Homo sapiens: one gene and its partner. The protein of the gene in region 2 purifies or fractionates together with the protein of the main gene of each other region. This does not show direct contact. Each region holds a gene or a part of one and is shown on either strand. Other genes may lie near its edges.

Evidence for each region.
Region 1: the proteins of ACOT2 (region 2) and SPATA33 purify together in Homo sapiens (affinity purification with mass spectrometry; 2 studies listed by BioGRID and IntAct, with this or other methods). This does not show direct contact.

What each region holds. Positions count from the first base shown.
Region 1 is NC_000016.10:89,653,997-89,661,366, reverse strand, and holds the start of SPATA33 (spermatogenesis-associated protein 33), read right to left. Parts: upstream 3,532-7,370; 5' UTR 3,456-3,531; coding exon 3,419-3,455; intron 3,300-3,418; exon of another isoform or gene 3,120-3,299; coding exon 2,946-3,119; coding exon of another isoform or gene 2,916-2,945; intron 828-2,915; coding exon of another isoform or gene 817-827; exon of another isoform or gene 1-816. Other genes in the region: CHMP1A (charged multivesicular body protein 1a), read left to right, coding at 3,779-3,785. UniProt on the Homo sapiens protein: Plays an important role in sperm motility and male fertility. Required for sperm midpiece flexibility and for the localization of sperm calcineurin to the mitochondria. Promotes mitophagy as well as acts as an autophagy mediator in male germline cells.
Region 2 is NC_000014.9:73,561,984-73,574,368, reverse strand, and holds the start of ACOT2 (acyl-coenzyme A thioesterase 2, mitochondrial), read right to left. Parts: upstream 5,157-12,385; 5' UTR 5,129-5,156; coding exon 4,486-5,128; intron 982-4,485; coding exon 779-981; intron 84-778; coding exon of another isoform or gene 1-83. UniProt on the Homo sapiens protein: Catalyzes the hydrolysis of acyl-CoAs into free fatty acids and coenzyme A (CoASH), regulating their respective intracellular levels. Displays higher activity toward long chain acyl CoAs (C14-C20).

The DNA of each region.
Region 1 (7,370 bases), on a different chromosome or scaffold from region 2:
CCCGTTTTTAAAACCATCGGATCTCGTGACACTCATTCACTATCACGAAAACAGCACAGGAAAGACCTGCCCCCATAATTCAATCACCTCCCACCCAGTTCCTCCCACATGTGGGAATTCAAAATGAGATTTGGGTGAGGACACAGCCAAGCCACATCAATATCCTAACAGCTGCCACAGTGATTAACTTATGGCCAAACTTTCTCCCCATCATGGCCCTTCTGTTCTTCTCACTACTGCTTCATAGTAACTTACCCCAAACCTCAGCAGTTTAAAACGATTTTCTTTTCTCTGGATTTTATGGGTTCAGGACACGTTTGGCAGGACAGGTATCACGTGTGGTTGTCCAGGCAGTTGGAGGCATGTGAAGACTCACTGAGACGTACAGGGAAGCTCTTGGGGCTGGACACTGATGCTGGCTCCCCCTGAGGTGCATGCCCCAAGCTGAGAAGACTCAAGGTTCCAGCCAGAGCCTGGAATCACTAAAGGCTTGTTTGCTCACAGGTCTGGCTCCTGGGCTGGAAGGGCTTAGGGACCAGGACTACTAAACTGCAGTGCTTCCCATGTTCAGATTCAGGTCGAAAACCATTTCCATCACCCTCCAAAGTCCTCTTGTGCTCAGCTGTGGCCGGCTCCCATTTCTGCCCAGCAACCACTCATCTGCTTCTCTCTGTAAATGTGCCTTTTCTGGACATTCCATGGAAAGGGAACTGCAACATGAGTGGTCTTTCCTCTGGCTTGTCTCACTCAGTGTCCCACCTTTGGGACTCCTTCACGGTGTGGCAAGGGAGTCAGCAGCCTGCTCCTCACTGTCGCTCAGCCCGTCACTGCATGGAGAGCGTGCACACTTCATTTTATCTGCTGAAACTCTGTTCTCACTCTTGCTCTGCTGTTTTCCCTTCATGTCCACCTTCCTCCCCCACCCTCTGGTGTGACAGACACTGCTGGGGCCCTTCCAACAGGCGGTCCTCCTTCCCCCACTTCCGTTACTGGCAGAGGTCCTGCCCACTCCCATGCTTCACAGCTCCCTCCAGCCCCTGGTGAATTTGCACCATTGAATGAGTCCTGCAGAGGCTGGGCAGGCGAAGCCTTCCTGGGAAAGGTTTCCTTGCTAATATGAAGCAAGGAGCAATGCCTTTGCAGTAGATGCAGTCCTGCCTGCGTGTGGGGGGCTGTACACTCATCGGGGGCTGTGGACACTGAGAGTGGTCAAGAAGAGACACGCAAAGTCTTTGATGTCACTGTTGTGCTAACAAGCCAACCTGGAAGCTCCACCTCTGACCCTTCATTCGTGAGACATTAAATCCCTGTGTTAAAGCTGCGTTTAGTGAGCTTTTCTGTAACTTTCAGCTAAAAGCACCGTGACAGACAGGTAGCATTTTCCAAACTGCCACCCAAGGGTGATGCTATTCCTGCAGGGTTCCATCCTCCGGTGGGGGGTTGCGCCCTCCTGTGAGGGGTTCCACCCTCCAGTGGGAGGTTCCAAAGTTGGGAATTCAAATCCAAGTCTTTCTTCCAAGTCCAAGGCCCAGAGCCTCCTACTTTCAGCCCTTGATCCTACAAGCGTGTCAGTGTGAAGCAGTCCAGGCCCAGCTCCTCTGCCTAGCAGGCCAGTCATCCCCCTGACATTCTTTCTTGTCTGACCCGAGTGGTTCTCTCCTTATTATTTTTTTTTTTTTCTGAGACAGAGTCTCACTCTGTAGCCCAGGCTGGAGTGCAGTGGTGCGATCTCGCTCACCACTACTTCTGCCTCCCGGGTCCCGGTTCAAGGTTCGAGCAATTCTCCTGCCTCAGCCTCCTGAGTAGCTGGGATTACAGGCACATGCCACCACGCCCAGCTAATTTTTGTATTTTTAGTAGAGACAGGGTTTCACCACGTTGGCCAGGCTGGTCTTGAACTCCTGACCTTAAGTGATCCACACGCCTCGGCCTCCCAAAGTGCTGGGATTACAGGCGTGAGCCACTGCGCCCAGCCGAGTGGTTCATTCTTGTGATGAAACTTAAAACACCTCCTCCTGGCACAGGCCCCCAATCTCCTCGGACGGCAGGCTCTGCGGGTTCTCCCTGCCTGACCCTTCTGCAATTCCTACTGCAAGGCCTTGCTGGCTCCCACTGGGCCACAGCAATGGGTCTCTGACCGGGCCACCTCCCCTGCGAACTGGCTTCCCCTGTTGGTAGGCACAGACCTCATCATGCCGCCCTTGTTTTTTATTTTTAAATATTTATTTTTTGTAGAGACAGGGTCTCACTATGTTGCCCAAGCTGGTCTTGAACTCCTGGGCTCAAAAGATCCTCCTGCCTCGGCCAAATAACTGGGAGGACAGGTGTGAACTACCGCCCCAGGCAGCACCTCCGTTGTTTAAAATATTTAACGCTTCCAGCTCCACGTGGTAAAACTGATGGAAAACTTTGTATTCTAGCTTCTTCCTACTTTTGGGGCCTCATCTTCCCCACACACACCCAAAGGTCTGGCCACACTAGGCTGTTATAAAAGACACCTTTGTCGCACCCAGGTTCTACTCCTCGGTCACCCTCCGCAATGTACTTATCCCCACAGCCCTCGGAGAGCTACAGTCCAGCCTGGGACGGCCTCCCAATGCTCTGTTCCAGTGTGCGGAGGCTCAGGGATTCTCAGTGGCACCAAGATACCCAGCCCTCGAGGAGAACCTCAGGTGAGACACACGCACACTGCCCCAGCCCCTCGACCACCTGGTACGCACTTATCACTCGGGAACTGACCTACATTTTCATTAAACTTATGTTTTCAACTAAGATTTCTGGATATTTACCTCCTACATAAAGTTCCCAAAACAAACCAGTTTCATCTTTACGGCGCGTGCCTGCTACTAGTGTCCATCCGGTAGGGTCTTACAGTAGGCTCCTCACCCCAGCCCCAGATCCTCCAAGCCACTGACCTCGCTTCGCTCCCTCCCGCCGTCTCCTACCTTCCAGCGAAGCTGCCGGCGGCGGGTGCTTGGCTGTCCCGGCCCCCGGGTGGAGGCTGTCCACAGGCTTCTCCGACTCCCTGTCTGCCTGCCTGGCTTCCTGGGAATGCTTCTCCATCAACTTCTCCTTAGATTTTGGAACTGAATAGGTGGATCCCTTCTTTTGCTCCTCACCTGAAATATATGGATCATCCGTTAGACCCGGGACTTACCGAATGCAGGGCAGTGGGTCCCATCGTCTTCAGTCGCCTGCGTGGGTCCAGAATAAGCTGGCTTCAAGTCTCGAGTCTCCGCGTTTCCGTAACCGCCTCAGGCGGGAAACGCGCCGTCCGTGGCGGACTCGGCGGCAGGAACGGTTCGCACCGGGCCGAGCCTGGCGCCTGCGCTCACACCGCCCCGCCCAGCCCAGCCCCGCCCTGGGCCCGCGCCCAGGGGCGGAGACGCGGGGAGCCCAGCGCCTGCGCCTCCTTTACCTTTCCTGGGTTTCTCTTTGCTTTTGGAAAGGCCCATGGGTGAGCCCACCGCCCCCTCCGACGCAAGCCCGGGTCCCCACACCTCCGCGGCCGCGGAGCCGGGAGCGACTCACAAAAGGTCCTCGCGCCAGCGGCGTGCGTCACCATGGCGACCGCGCGCCGCGCAGCCGCGCCCCGCCCCTCTGGCGGGACCGGCCACCATCCTCTCGCGAGAGCATCCCGTGCGACCGGAAGTGGGGCGGCGACCCCGGAAGTCCCCGCCGGGTGCAGCTTGGTCGGTTCGATCGCCGCCGGGACCTGACACCGCCCGGAGTTGGCGTCCCTTCTCCCTCTCCGAGTGCTGCTCCTGTCATTGTGGCCATGGACGGTAAGAGGTCGCGGCCGTCCTCCGGGGACTCGCGCGCGGGGCGGGGCCGCTTCTCCCACTGGCGTGGGCTCCGCCCACCTGGGGCCGCGGGCAGGACTCAGGAGAGCTCGGGCCTCGACCGTCGATCCCCCGGGACCCCATCCCCAGGGCCTCGACCACCGACCTGGGACCCCTTTTCCCGGTCGTCGTCCCCCGATCCCCGACCCGGACCCCATCCCCAGGGCCTCGACCACCGACCTGGGACCCCTTTTCCCGAGCCTCGTCCCCCGATACCCGACCCGGAACCCCTTCCCCAGGGCCTAGACCACCAACCCGGGACCCCTTTTCCCGGGCCTCGACCCTCGATCCCCGACCCGGAACCCCTTCCCCAGGGCCTCTACCACCGACCCGGGACCCCTTCTCCCGGGCCTCGACCCCCGACCACCGACCGGGACCCTTCCCAGGCCCCCGACCCCCAACCCGAGATCCTTTACCCCGGGCCTCGACCCTCGACCCGGGACCCCTCCCCCCAGGCCTCGATCCCCGACCCCCGATTCGGGACCCCTTCCCCGGGGCCTCCATCCCCAAATCTCAACCCGGTATGCCTTCCCCGGGGCCTCGACCTCTGACCCCCAACCATGGACCCGGGACCTAGACTCCCGACCCAGGACCCCTTGCCCAGGGCCTGGACCCCCGACCACCGACCCAGGACCCTTTCCCCCGCCCCTGGCACTCCTCAGCGTCAGGCGCCCTTTCCCGCCAGCTCGGTAGGGGGGACTGTGCGATGCCTGTTCGGCCTTTCGGGACTTGGAATGTCGGGTCAGAGGGCACCAGAAAAAGTGACAGTTGCACCCCCTGCCCCAAACAGCATCACTGCAAATCAGAAGGACTCAGACAGAAAGCGCTCCCTGAGTGCCAGGCCCTGGTCACAGCAGCTCTTTGCGTCCATTCTCCATGTGGGGAAGCAGAGGTTTGAGCAGGAGCCAGCACAAGCGTTTCTGTGCTCAATGGGTCGCCCTAATTCTTACCTTCTACATCTGGGGCTAGCCGGCTGTGTGCTCAGGGATACCAAAGAACAGGAAGAATCTGGCAAAATGAAGTCCTATGTTTGCTGAAACATCGTTGGGCTGGTGTGATGGGCAGGCTTTTAAAAATACTTTTTGAAGGGCTGGGCGCGGTGGCTCACGCCTGTAATCCCAGCACTTTGGGAGGCCGAGGCCGGCGGATCGCAAGGTCAGGAGATCGAGACCATCCTGGCTAACACAGTGAAACCCCATCTCTACTAGAAATACAAAAATATTAGCCAGGCGTGGTGGCGGGTGCCTGTAGTCCCAGCTACTCGGGAGGCTGAGGCAGGAGAATGGCGTGAACCCGGGAGGCGGAGCTTGCAGTGAGCCGAGATCGCGCCACTTCACTCCAGCCTGGGCGACAGAGCGAGACTCCGTCTCAAAAAAAATTCTTTTAGTTAGAAGTGTGAAAAGCTATAGTACCACCGTGTCATCATCATGAAGGAAATGTGTAGAGATTTTCTGCCCTGAGAGAAGATGAAAGATAACATCTACCTCCCGCCACAAAAAATATGCTGGCCAGGCCGGGTGTGGTGGCTCAGGCCTGTAACCCCAGCACTCTGGGAGGCCGGGCGCGGTGGCTCACGGCTGTAATTCCAGCACTTTGGGAGGCCGGATGTGGTGGCTCACGCCTGTAACCCCAACACTTTGGGAGGCCGAGGTTGGTTGATCACCTGAGGTCAGGAGTTTGAGACCAGCCTGGCCAACATGGTGAAACCCCGTCTCTTCTAAAAATACAAAAATTAGCTGGGCCTGGTGGCGTGCACGTGTAATTCTAACTACTTGGGAGGCTGAGACAGGAGAATCGCTTAAACCTGGGAGGCAGAGGTTGCAGTGAGCCAAGATGGTGCCGTTGCACTCTAGCCTGGGTGATAGAGTGAGACTCCGTCTCAAAAAAAAAAAAGAAAAATTGTGGCTTTTCACTCCACAGCTCACTCAACTCTTTTGAGGGGACTTCTCTCAAGCCCATGTCAGATTTCCTCAGAGTCAGATTTTGCCTTAGCTGGGTTTTTGTGCTGCCACACACGGCTGGAAGAGAAAGCTGAGGTGAGGAAAGCTGAGGTGAGGGAAAGCTGAGGTGAGGAAAGCTGAGGTGAGGAGAGCTGAGGTGAGGGAAAGCTGAGGTGAGGGAAAGCTGAGGTGAGGGAAAGCTGAGGTGAGGGAAAGCTGAGATGAGGAGGGCGGTTTGGCCAGCATCCCACAGTGAGTTGGGTGGGACGGCCCGCCTGGCCTGCACTGTGCCATCTGGGTCAGGCTGGCTGTTTTCCAGTCACAGATAACCTTGGCCGTGACCACACCTGAACTGATAGATGACAGGTTGAACTTGGCCTTGACCACGCCTGCACTGACAGGCGATAGATTGAACGATGCCCAGAGCTTTCTGGAACCCCGGGAGATCTCATCTTGGAGCCTTGGTGTGCATTTGTGAACACTCAGTAACCTCATTCTTTTACAGGCTCCATTTCCTCGTTGTGGCTAGTGTGGTAAAGCCCTTTCAGGAATCTGGGGTCAGGGTCGCTCTCCAAATTTAGCAGTTGAATGAATTGAGATCAATCCTACTTTTTAAAAAAAATATTTTTTCTTTTTTTTTTTGAGACGGAGTCTTGCACTGTTGCCCAGGCTGGAGTGCAGTGGCGCAATCTCGGCTCACTGCAAGCTCTGCCTCCCGGGTTCACGCCATTCTCCTGCCTCAGCCTCCTGAGTAGCTGGGACTACAGGCGCCCGCCACCACGCCTGGCTAATTTTTTGTATTTTTTGGTAGAGACGGGCTTTTACCGTGTTAGCCAGGATGGTCTCGATCTCCTGACCTCATGTTCCGCCGGCCTCGGCCTCCCAAAGTGCTGGGATTACAGGCGTGAGCCACCGCACCCGGCAAAAAAATATATATTTTTCTAATAGAGATGAGGTCTGACTATATTCCCTAGGCTGGTCTGGAACTCCTGACCTCAAGTGATCTGCCCGCCTCAGCCTCCCAGAGTGCTGTGATTACAGGCGTGAGCGACTGTACCGCTGGAAATCAGCTCTTTGATGTCTAAGAGTTACCACCTTGCTATTTTTATCCATTTACCTTTGAGGAGAAAGAGTCTGTAAAAAGTAAACTGTCAAGTACTGAACTTTTAAATTGGCCCAGGCTGGCCTCAAACCCTGGCTTTAAGTGATCCACTGGCCTCGGCACCCCCAGAGTGCTGGGATTACAGGTGAACTTTTAAATTGGGAAAGAATCCCAAGGGACATTTGCAAAGTTGCATTAATTATAAACCACCATCTTTTGGATTCTAACCATGGCCAAAAGATGCTGCGTCCATGACCTCTTCTGTCCTCACACTAACCCTTTGAGATTGGCTGGTACCACCCTCATGTTCCCAACAAGGAAACAGGGAGGGAGGGTCTGCATTTGCTGGGCCCTGTGGCTAGCAAGGAGCCAGGGCTGGCACACGAATCTGTCTCGTGCCTCCCCTGTTGGGGGGGGCTCCCCGAAGGCCCCAGGCAGGTGTGGTCTGTGTGTGTGTTCTAGCTCCTGGTGTCTAGAAGGAACCTA
Region 2 (12,385 bases):
CAATTGAACCTGGGAGGTGGAGTTTGCAGTGAGCCGAGATCATGCCATTGCACTCCAGCCTGGGTGACACAGCAAGACTCCATCTCAAAAAAAAAAAAAAAAAAATACTGGAATTTAAAATTGCATAATAACAACTACGAATCTCTTTACTAGCAGGAAATATAGTAATATAGAATTGAATAGAAACTGTCTATAAGAGGCCAGGTGTGGTGGCTCATGCCTGTAATTCCAGCACTCTGGGAGGCCAAGGTGGGCAGATCACTTGAGGTCAGGAGTTTGAGACCAGCCTGGCCAACATGGCGAAACCCCATCTCTACTTAAAAAAAAAAAAATACAAATATTAGGCTGGGCATAGTGGCTCATGCCTGTAATCCAGCACTTGGGTAGGTCAAAGCAGGTGGATCATTTGAGGTCAGGAGTTCAAGACCAGCCTGACCAATATTGTGAAACCCCGCCTCCACTAAAAATACAAAAATTAGCCAAGCATGGTGGCAGGTGCCTGTAATCCCAACTACTCGGGAGGGTGGGGCACAAGAATCACTTGAACTTGGGAGGTGGAGGTTGCAGTGAGCCAAGATCGCACCACTGGACTCCAGCCTGGCAACAGAGTGAGACTCCATCTCAAAAAAAGAAACTGTCTATAAGAAGTGACTAAAAAAGGTAGTGTGTGTTGGGGTAGGGAATGGCTGTCATGAATGAGCTAACTTCTGTGAAAACCCAGACCATTTAAGAAGAGACCTGATACATCATAGCCCATAAATCTGAAAGAAGAACTAACCTCGGGATGACTGAGCAAGTAGTTCATGGCTTCTTCAAAGTACTCCAGATGGAGCGTCTCCATGGTCTTGGGGAGGTCTTCATAGTTATAATAAGCCAGAGCCATCACAGCAAAACCCTTCCCAGCCAGCAGACTAGCCCGATACTCCAGCAGGCCACCTCCAGTTCCGAACATGTCCACAATCCCAGGAAAGGGCCCAGGTTCTTGGGAAGAAACAAAACAAAATGCAAAACTAAGCTATTCCTGAAACAGTTGGATGGTTTAAGTTAAACATATACTTACCACACATGTGACCCAGCAATCCCACTCCTAGGTATCTACCCACGAGAAATGAAAACCTGTTCGTCCAGAAACCTCTGGCAAGTGTTTATAGTGACTTTACTCGTTGTAGCCAAAGACTGGAAACAACCCAAATGTCCTTTAACTGGTGAATGAATCCATTTAATGGTGCACCACCAAGAAACAAAAAGAAAGACTGCTACATAGAAGAGCACAAATTCCTCTCCAGTGCACTCAACAGAATGCACTTACTCAACGGAGACAGACTCAAAAGGCTACTCATTCTGAATGACTCCACTTACTGATATTTTTATCATTTACATTAAAGGTTTTGTGTTTCACACAAAATTAAATAGTAATAATGCAGGCTGGGTCCGGTGGCTCACGCCTGTAACCCCAGCACTTTGGGAGGCTGAGACGGGTGGATCACCTGAGGTCAGGAGTTCGAGACCAGCCTGGCCAACATGGTGAAACCCCATCTGTACTAAAAATACAAAAATTAGCTGGGTGTGGTGGCGGCCACCTGTAATCCCAGCTACTCGGGAGGCTGAGGGAGGAGAATCGCTTGAACCCGGGAGGTGGAGGTTGCAGTGAGCCAAGATTGTGCCACTACTCCAGCCTGGGCGAAAGAGCGAGACACTGTCTCAAAAAAAAAAAAAAAAAAAAAAAAAATGCAAACACCTTACAGGCAACACTTTTAAGACATAGTTCAGTGCTGATACCCGCAAACCATCAACGTCCCACAGACCCCTGTGCCCTTTCCTCTCTTTCCAGTATCCTGGACTTTCTGTGTATCACTCTTGGTTTTCTTCATAGTATTACCACTTAGATTATGTACCTTAATATTTTATTTTGCCTAGTTTTTGAATTGTATCTAAATGGAATGATACTGAATGTGTTCTCCTAGGGTTTGACTGTTTCACTCAACAGTGGTTTGGAGATTCATCCATGTTGATTCTTTTTTTTTCTTTTCTTTTGTATATCTTGATAGATGTTGATTCTTGTAGCTGTAGTTCAATCACTTTGACTGCTGGAAATATACCTCAATTTATTAATCTGTTCTATTGTTGATGGACATTTGGACTGTTTCCAGTTGACTTTGCTCTTTTTTTAAATTAATCCAGACTGCTCATCTGGCCTCTTATAAGGAATATGCCTCCTGGTGCACATGTACAAGTAGAATAACATATTTAACTTTGTAAGTTAAGACAAATTGTTGCCCAGAGCAGATGAATATGTTGCTCCTTCTAGCAGTGAGTTTCATTTCCTCCACATACTGGTCAGCAATTGATAATGCTAGCTTCTAAAAGTGGGCCACTTCTGAGGGTGTGAAATGTACTCTGTTGTTTTATTTTGCATTTCTTTGATTATTAATAAGGATAAGCATCATTTCATTTTTACACTGGCTGATTGCTCTTTATGTAATATAAAAGTATCCAGTAACCTCAAATTTCCATTTGACAGGAAGAGGTTTTCCTATTGTAAATGCTAATTTACATAAATCTTAACATACTGTGCGAATTCAAAGAAAAGTTGCAAAAATGAGAAACTTTTAAAGAACATTTCTGGGCCCCATACCCCTAGGATCCCGAGAAACCCCAGTGCCCCGGCAGCGATGAGCACAGCCCACGCGTGTGCTGATGGACAGGGACCGCGTGCTGGCAGCTTCCAGACGGCCTCCTGCGGGGCTTCAGCCGCCCCTTCTCAGGGAGCTGCATGTGACACTGCAGCAGCACCGCAGCTTCCTGGTCTGGAAGCAGTACCTCACCCTGCTGCCGGACCTGGTGGATAAAGTGGCCCACGGGTGTGAAGCCCAGGCTTTTCCCTAGTCTTGAAGCCCAACCCCGGAGGACCTTGCAAGAGATGAAGCACATGCAAAACACCGAGGTCTTCACACTGCACCAGCCCCTGCCAAAGTATGACCACTGTGTGGGTGAGAAGCACCGCTGGGTAGGGCAGCACCTGGAGCCCCAGCTTGTGGAGTGAATTATCCTGACAATGGACAAGACCGTGGTCTTTGGGGACTTGCTCACTGATGACAAAGATACCATTCGAGGCCAAGAGGAGAGGCCACAATAGTACCTGGTCCTGCCATGCATAGGGACGCGGCTGCTCTCCTGGAATGGTAACAGGGAGATCATAGCCAGCCAGCGGGGAGCTAGGCAGCAGGAACGAACAGGCCCTGCAGGGGGCAGCAGCTGCAGCTGGAGCAATGGTGGGCGGGCAGGCACCAAAACCTCTGCACTGTCACAGGCCCAGCCACCTGGCACCTCCTAGCTGCCATGGAAATACAGTGAGAAAACCAGTCGGAATTCTTATTTAAAAAAAAAAAAAAGTGGCTTCCTAGTCAATACATAAATAAGAACATTAAAAAATTGAAACTACCTGAATTTTTTTTTTTTTTTTTTAAGATAGAGTCACTCTTGTCCCCCAGGCTGGAGTGCAATGGCATGATCTCAGCTCACTGCAACCTCTGCCTCCCGGGTTCCAGCGATTCTCCTGCCTCAACCTCCTAAGTAGTTGGGACTACAGGCATGCACCACCACGCCTGGCTAATTTTTCTATTTTTAGTAGAGATGGGGTTTCACCATGTTGGCCAGGCTGGTCTCGAACTCCTGACCTCAGGTGATCCGCCGGCCTCGGCCTCCCAAAGCGCTAGGATTACAGGCGTTAGCCACCGCGCCCGGCCTGTTTTGTTTTTAATATAAGTGTCTTTTTCCTTTCCTTACAATGTCTTTTTTTTGAGACGGAGTCTCGCTCTGTCGCCCAGGCTGGAGTGCAGTGGCGCGATCTCAGCTCACTACAAACTCTGCCTCCCGGGTTCACACCATTCTCCTGCCTCAGCCTCCCGAGTAGCTGGGACTACAGGCGCCCGCTACTACGCCCAGCTACTGTTTTGTATTTTTAGTAGAGACGGGGTTTCACCGTGTTAGTCAGGATGGCCTCAATCTTTTGATCTCGTGATCTGCCCGCCGAGACTTCCCAAAGTGCTGGGATTACAAGCGTGAGCCACTGCGCCTGGCCCTTACAATGTCTTTTAACTGAGCACTAGGTTTGAGGGACCTCTCAGTTTTGGAGCGGCAGGGACACTTCCCCAATCAGCTTTCCATTCCATTCCTGTTTCTTTACACTAACCTCCGGAAGGTTGGAAGCTACATCCCTTCTTCGTGTGAAAAGGGCAGGGACGGAAAAAAAAAAAAAGTGTAACTCCCCTCAAAGTGCCGGGCGCGGTGGCTCACCCTGTAATCCCAGCTCTTAGGGAGGCAGAGGCGGGAAGATAGCTGGAGACCAGGAATTCGAAACCTGCCTGGGCAATATAGCCCGGGGGCGCGGCGGGGGGGCATACACATAAGCGAAAAGCGTGGGGCGGGGGAGACACACAAAGTGAAAGGCGAACGAACACGGAACAATTAGCGGAGGTGAGTCACCTGGCGGCAGGAAGAGCGTGCCTCGCACCCGGCCCACGCGCACCGGCTCGCGCCGCACCCCGGGCGGGAGGAAGTAGCGCTCGTGCCGCGTCTGGCACAGCAGCCGCCCGGGGTCGGGGTCGTGGCCATCCAGCACCTCCAGCTCCACGGCCAAGGGCGTTCGCACGTCGCGCTTCACCAGCCGCACCAAAGGTTTCTCGGGCTCCAAGGCCCAGAGCAGCCCCATGGGCTCAAGCCCCGCGAAGCTGCCGCCCAGCGCGGGCGCGCGCTCCAGGTCCAGCTCGCCAAGAGTGTCGGCGCGGTAGCGCGCGTGGGCCTGGAAAAGCGCGCCCTTCTCGTCGCGCAGGGACGCGCGCAGCGTGACCGGCTGCTCCGGGGCTAGGCCGCGCACGGCGATTCGCACCGGTTCGTCCCAGCAGCAGCGGCCCGCAGGCTCCAGGATCAGCGTCGCCGCCATCCGAGCAGGAACCCTAATGATCTGACCAACCTGCCTCAGCTGTGGAGACCCCAGGAACTGCGCCGAACTCTTCAGGCTCCATTGGTACAGCCGGGACGCTCGAAGGACAGCAGGAGATGAGGCCATTTTGAATTCAGACCTGAGAACAACTGAATGGGGGTGGGGAGAAAGAAGCTTGTTAGACATCCTCTCGGGCTGCCGTCGCAGGCTAAGCGCCCACTAGGGCAGAGCTGTCTGCTAACGTGAGCGGGGAAGGCCAGAGTCCAGCCGATCAGCCAGACCAAATATAGACACACTGGAACTTGCTTAAAGTCTCCTGTGTTGAAACCTCCACTTTATGTTGGAAAGCTACTTCCTAGGTTTGCTTTTCAGAAGCTTGCTGGCCTGCGGAATGGGCTGGACCAGGGCTGGTTCTTAAAGAACCAGGCAGCTAGCAGTCTCCAGGCTCCAAACTCCTGATGGCGAAGAGGAATGCAGAGCTGGAGTTAGTTTTGATCACTTTGTTGAATAATTCACACTCATTACTAATCTTAGGGCTTTTCTTTCAAAATCTGCACCATGGTGTTTTGCTTTTGTGTTCTCTGTATATGCCTATCCTCCACATCAATCCCACATCGAAGGGTGCTGGCTTCTTACTAGCTGTGTGACCTCTGAGCTTCATTCCTTACAAGTGTAAAAATAGCCAAATGGGGTAATAGGTAGTAATTTCTCAAACTCCTGACTTTGTAATCCGCCCGCCTCAGCCTCCCAAAATGCTAGGATTTACAGGCATGAGCCACCGCGCCCGGCTAATAGTTATTATTTTGTTTTACTGGTTTCTCAATTATTGTCCCAGTCAGGCAAGGGTTACTTTTTTTTTTTGAGAGACAGGGTCTCACTACATTGCCAGACTGGAGTACAGCGGCAGTTTACCATCACTGCACTTACAAACCTCCAACTCCTGGTGCTCAAGCCATCTTCCTGACTCAGCCTCTCAAATACCTCAAAGGACTACCGGAGCTCCCCATGCATCGCGCTTTTTTCTACTTTTTCGTAAGCTATTGGTTTCACCAGAGGTGTGGTGTTTTTTTTTTTCATCACTTAAGCTTTAGGCCCCTGCCAAGCCCTTGTACCTGATTTTATAATTTCCTACCTGTGTAATTAGAGAAAGCTATAAATGTGTAGGCTTCAAACCCACAAAACCTGTGTTTGCCTCTGCTCCTAATAAGGCTGTCCTCAAGGTAAGCCTTTTTATCTCGTTCCAAATCTCTCATGTCCCACGTCATTAATCATACAATTCCCTGTCAGTTCTAATTACCTTTGTATAACACCTCAAGTATGTTCTGTGCCTAGAACTCTCAGGAAGTAAGAAGGCAAATAATTCTGTGTCTGGAATTGGTTCCTTCTGGTGGATTCTTGGTCTCGCTGACATCAAGAATGAAGCCGCAGACCCTCGCAGTGACTGTTACAGTTCTTAATACAGTTCTGAAAAGTAGTGTGTCTGGAGTTTGTTTCCTCTGATGTTCAGATGCGTCCGGAATGTGTTCCTTCTGGTGGGTTCATGGTCTCGCTTCTCACCGACTTCAAGAGTAAAGCCACAGACCTTCAAGGTGAGTGTTACAGCTCATAAAGGCAGCAGGTCCAGAGTTGTTTTTCTTGTTCCTCTCAGTGGGTTCATGGTCTTGGCTTCAGGAGTGAAGCTGTATACCTTCACGGTGTTACAGCTCTGAAATGCAGTATGGACCCAAAGAAGGAGCAGTAGCAAGGTTTATTGTGAAGTACAAAAGAACAAAGCTTCCATCAGCCTGGAGCGGAACTCACGCAGGTTACCACTACTAGCTGGGGTGACCAGCTTTTATTCCCTTATTTGGCCCTGCTCATGTCCTGCTGATTGGTCCATTTTACAGAGCGCTGATTTTCCATTTTACAGAGTGCTGATTGGTTCGTTTTACAAAGTGCTGATTGGTTCGTTTTTACCCAGTGCTGATTGGTGCGTTTACAAACCTTTAGCTAGACACAGAGTGCTGATTGGTGCATTTACAATCCTTTAGCTAGACAAAAAAGTTCTCCAAGTCCCCACCCAACCCAGAAGCCCAGCGGTCTTCACCTCTCAATAGTAGCTAATGGTTAATACTTACAAGAACCCTATCAGTAAATTAAGGCCCAGAGAATTTAACTGATTTTCTGAAGATCACACAGCTAGAAAGTGGAAGTTGGGCAAGATGGCTCACGCCTGTAATCCCAGTTTACTTGGAGGCTGAGGTGGCAGGGTTGCTTAAGGCCAGGAGTTTCGCACCAACCTGGACAACATAGCAAGACCCTGTCTCTAAAAAGAAAAAGGGGATGGGCGCGGTGGCTCACACCTGTAATCCCAGAACTTTGGGAGGCTGAGGCGGGTGGATCATGAGGTCAGGAGATCGACACCATCCTGGCTAACACAGTGAAACCCCATCTCTACTAAAAAAAAATACAAGAAATTAACTGGGCATGGTGGCAGGCACCTGTAGTCCCAGCTGCTCCAGAGGCTGAGGCAGGAGAATGGCGTGAACCCCAGAGGTGGAGCTTGTGAGAGGTGACAGCGTGCTGGCAGCCCTCACAGCACTTCCTCTGCCTGGGCTCCCACTTTGGCGGCACTTGAGAAGCCCTTCAGCCCACCGCTGCACTGTGGGAGCCCCTTTCTGGGCTGGCCAAGGCCGGAGCCGTCTCCCTCAGCTTGCAGGGAGGTGTGGAGGGAGAGGCGCAAGTGGGAACTGAGGCTGCGTTCCGCACTTGCGGGCCAGCTGGAGTTCCAGGTGGGCATGGGCTTGGTGGGCCCCACACTCGGAGCCGCCAGCTGGCCCTGCCAGCCCCGGGCAATGAGGGGCTTAGCACCTGGGCCAGCGGCTGCGGAGGGTGTGCTGGGTCCCCCAGCAGTGCCGGCCCACTGGCGCTGTGCTCAATTTCTCGCTGGGCCTTAGCTGCCTTCCCACGGGAAAGGGCTTAGGACCTGCAGCCCTCCATGCCTGAGCCTCCCCCCGCCTCCGTGGGCTCCTGTGCAGCCTGAGCTTCCCTGACGAGCGCCGCCCCCTGCTCCACGGAGCCCAGTCCCATTGACCACCCAAGGGCTGAGGAGTGTGGGCTCACGGTGCGGGACTGGCAGGCAGCTCCACCTGCAGCCCCAGTGCACGATCCACTGGGTGAAGCCAGCTGGGCTCCTGAGTCTAGTGGGAACTTGGAGAACCTTTATGTCTAGCTAGGGGATTGTAAATACACCAATCGGCACTCTGTATCTAGCTCAAGGTTTGTAAACACACCAATCAGCACCCTGTGTCTAGCTCAGGGTTTGTGAATGCACCAATCAACACTCTGTATCTAGCTACTCTGGTGGGGACTTGGAGAACCTTTGTGTCAACACTCTGTATCTAACTATTCTGGTGGGGACGTGGAGAACTTTTGTGTCTAGCTGAGGAATTGTAAACGCACCAATCAGTGCCCTGTCAAAACAGACCCCTGGGCTCTACCAATCAGCAGGATGTGAGTGGGGCCAGATAAGAGAATAAAAGCAGGCTGCCCTAGCCAGCAGTGGCAACCCGCTGGGGTCCCCCTTCCACACTGTGGAAACTTTGTTCTTTCGTTCTTTGCAATAAATCTTACTGCTGCTCACTCTTTGCGTCCACACTGCCTTTATGAGCTCTAACACTCACCACCAAGGTCTGTAGCTTCACTCCTGAAGCCAGCGAGACCATGAACTCACCGGGAAAAACGAACAACTCCAGACACGCCGCCTTAAGAGCTGTAACACTCACCACGAAGGTCCGCAGCTTCAGTCCTAAGCCAGCGAGACCATGAACCCACCAGAAGGAAGAAACTCCGAACACATCCGAACATCAGAAGGAACGAACTCTGGACATGCCACCTTTAAGAGCTGTAATGCTCCCGTGAGGGTCCACGGCTTCATTCTTGAAGTCAGTGAGACCAAGAATCCACCAATTCTGGACACACTTGCAGTGAGCCGAGATTGGGCCACTGCACTCCAGCCTGGGCGACTGAGCAAGACTCCTCAGAAAAAAAAAAAAAAAAGGAAAAGAAAAAGGGAGAGGGTTCATACCTTTGAAATCTGATTCTCAAGCCTGGGCTCTGAACAACTATGCTTTAACTGTCTCTCACATGATGTTGAAGAAGATTTAGAAAAGAAACTCATATATTGATGAATGTATAAACTGGTATGACCTTTTCATGGCAATCAGTGCAAAAATACTTAAAAGATCCCTTCTCTTTGACTCAGCTCCACGTCTAGGAATTTCTTTTAAGTAAACCTTAATGAATGTGTGTAAATATTTGGCTACAAGGATGCTTATCATATCATTTTAATAGAGAAAAAATTAGAAACAAGTGAGCAATATGAATTTGGTTTAACCAGTTTAATTGTGATGTCATAAATGAAATCAGTGTAGACATCTAAAGTTATATAGCAGAAGAATATATGATGAGCATTTTTCCATCACACTGATGAAAAAAGCAGGTTAGAGAACAGTATAAATATATTTTTTACCAAGATATTAACATTTTTTAAAAAGACTACTGAAACAATACACCAGTAGCTGGGTGCAGTGGTTCATGCTTGTAGTTCCAGCTGTTAGGAGGGAGTCCTAGGCAGGAGATTGCTTGAGCCCAGGAGGAGTTCGATACCAGCTTGGGCAACAGAGCAAGATCTCATCTCTAAAAAAAAAAAAAAAAAAACAAAAAACAGAAAAGATAAGACATGAAAATTAAAAAACACACATCTAACTATTTCAAACTGTTGTTTCTTGAGCCTTGAGGTTTTATGCATAGTATTTGTTTATTTGTTTGTTTGTTTTTTAAGACGGGGTGTCTCACTGTGTTACCCAGGCTGGAGTGCAGTGGTGTGATCATAGCTCACTGCAGCCTCAACCTCCCAGGCTTAGCCAGTCCTCCCACCTCAGCCTCCTGAGCACCTGGGACCACAGGCATGCACCACCACACCTGGCTAATTTTTAAAATTATTTGTACAGACGGGGTCTCCCTATGTTGCCTGGTCTCGAACTCCTGGGCTTAAGCAATCCTCCCACCTTGGCCTCCCTGAGTGTTGGGATTATAGGCAAGAGCCACCACACTGGGCCATGTTTCTTTTTTTAATTTTTTTTTTTTTCAAGACAGAGTCTTGCTCTGTCACCCAGGCTGGAGTGCAGTGGTCTGATCTCGGCTCACTGCAACCTCTGGCTCCCGGGTTCCAGCGATTCACCTGCCTCAGCCTCTTGAGTAGCTGGGATTACAGTCACATGCCACCACGGCCAGCTGATTTTTGTATATTTAGTACGACGGGGTTTCACCATGTTGGCCAGGCTGGTCTCAAACTCCTGACCTTGTAATCTGCCCGCCTCAGCCTCCCAAAGTGCTGAGACTACAGTCGTGAGTCACCGTGTCTGGCCTTAACTCTTATTTTTTTAGAGACTAGGTCTTACTCTGTCACCCAGGTTGGAGTGCAATGGCACCATGATAGTTCATTGCAGCCTTGAACTCCTGGGTTCAAAGGATCCTCCCACCTCCTCTTCCCAAACAAGTGACCCTACCGCCTCATCTTCCCAAAGCGGTGAGATTACAGGCATGCATGGCCTCATTTTAACCATTTATTTATTTATTTTTTTATTTTTAGAGACAGGGTCTTGCTATGTTGCCCAGACTGGTCTCGAACTCTGGTCTCAAGTGACCCTCCTGCCTTGGCCTCCCAAAGCGCTAGAATTACAGGCATGAGCTGCTGGAACAAGCCCATTTTAACCATTTTTAAGTGTACAAATCAATGATATTAAGTACATTACATTGTTGTACAACTATCACCATTATCCATTTCCAGAACTTTTGGAGTCTCGCTCTATCCCCCAGGCTGGAGTGCAGTGGCGCGATCTCAGCTCACTGCAACCTCCACCTCCCGGGTTCAAGTGAGTCTCCTACCTCAGCCTCCCGAGTAGCTGGGACTACAGGCACGCACCACCACACCCAGCTAATTTTTCTATTTTTAGTAGAGATGGGATTTCACTGTGTTGGCCAAGCTGGTCTCAAACTCCTGACCCCAAGTGATCGGCCTGCCTCAGCCTCCCAAAGTGCTGGGATTATAGGCGTGAGCCACTGCGTCTGGCCCAGAATTTTTACATCATTGTACAATGAAAGTCTTTACCCATTAAACTATTGGGGGAACTCGCCCCCAATATTTCAACGTAGGTTCCTTCTATTTTCTATAAGAGTCGGCCGGCTGACAAATAGAGACAGTACAAAGAGAGGAATTTTACACCTGGGCCGCTGGGGGTGACATCACATATTGGTAGGACCGTGATGCCCACCTGAGTCTCAGACCAGCAAGTTTTTATTAAGGGTTTCAAAAGGGGAGCGGGGGTAAGAACAGGGAGTGGGTACAAAGATCGTATGCTTCAAAAGGCAAAAGCAGAACCACTAATAAGGTTCTAACAAAGATCACATGCTTCTGAGGGAATAGGACAAAGGGCAAAAGCAGAACCACTGACAAAGGTCCAACAAAGATCACAAGGCAAAGGGCAAAAGCAGAACCACTGATAAGGGTTGTGTTCAGCGGTGCATGTATTTTCTTGATAAACATCTTAAACAACAGAAAACGGGGTTGGAGAGCAGAGAACCAGTCTGACCACAAATTTACCAGGGTGGAGTTTTCCCAACCCTAGTAAGCCTGAGGGTTCTGCAGGAGACCAGGGCGTATCTCAGTCCTTATCTCAACGGCACAAGACAGACATTCCCAGAGCGGCCGTTTATAGACCTCCCGCCAGGAATGCATTCCTTTCCCAGGGTATTAATATTAATATTCCTTACTAGGAAAATAATTTAGTGATATCTCTCCTACTTGCACGTCCGTTTGTAGGCTCTCTGCAAGAAGAAAAATATGGCTCTTTTGGCCCGACTCCGCAGGCTGTCAGACCTTATGGTTGTCTTCCCTTGTTCCATAAAAATCGCTGTTATTCTGTTCTTTTTCAAGGTGCACTGATTTCGTATTGTTCAAACACATGTTTTACAATCAATTTGTACAGTTAACACAATTATCACAGTGGTCCTGAGGTTATGTACATCCTCAGCTTACGAACATAACAGGATTAAGATATTAAAGACAGGCATAAGAAATTATAAAAGTATTATTTGGGAACTGATAAATGTCCATATTAAGATGAAATCTTCACAATTTATGTTCCTCTGCCGCGGCTCCAGCCGGTCCCTCCATTCGGGGTCCTTGACTTCCCACAACATTAAACAATAACTCCTTATTCCCCACTGCCACCAGCCCCTGGCAACCACTATTCCACTTCCTGTCTCTGAATTTGACTACTTTAGGTACCTCATAAAGTGTAATTATACAGTATTTGGCCCTTCATCTCTGGCTTATTTTGCTTAGCATATTGTCTTCAAGGCTCATCCATATATTTACAGCATATCATAACTTCACTCTCC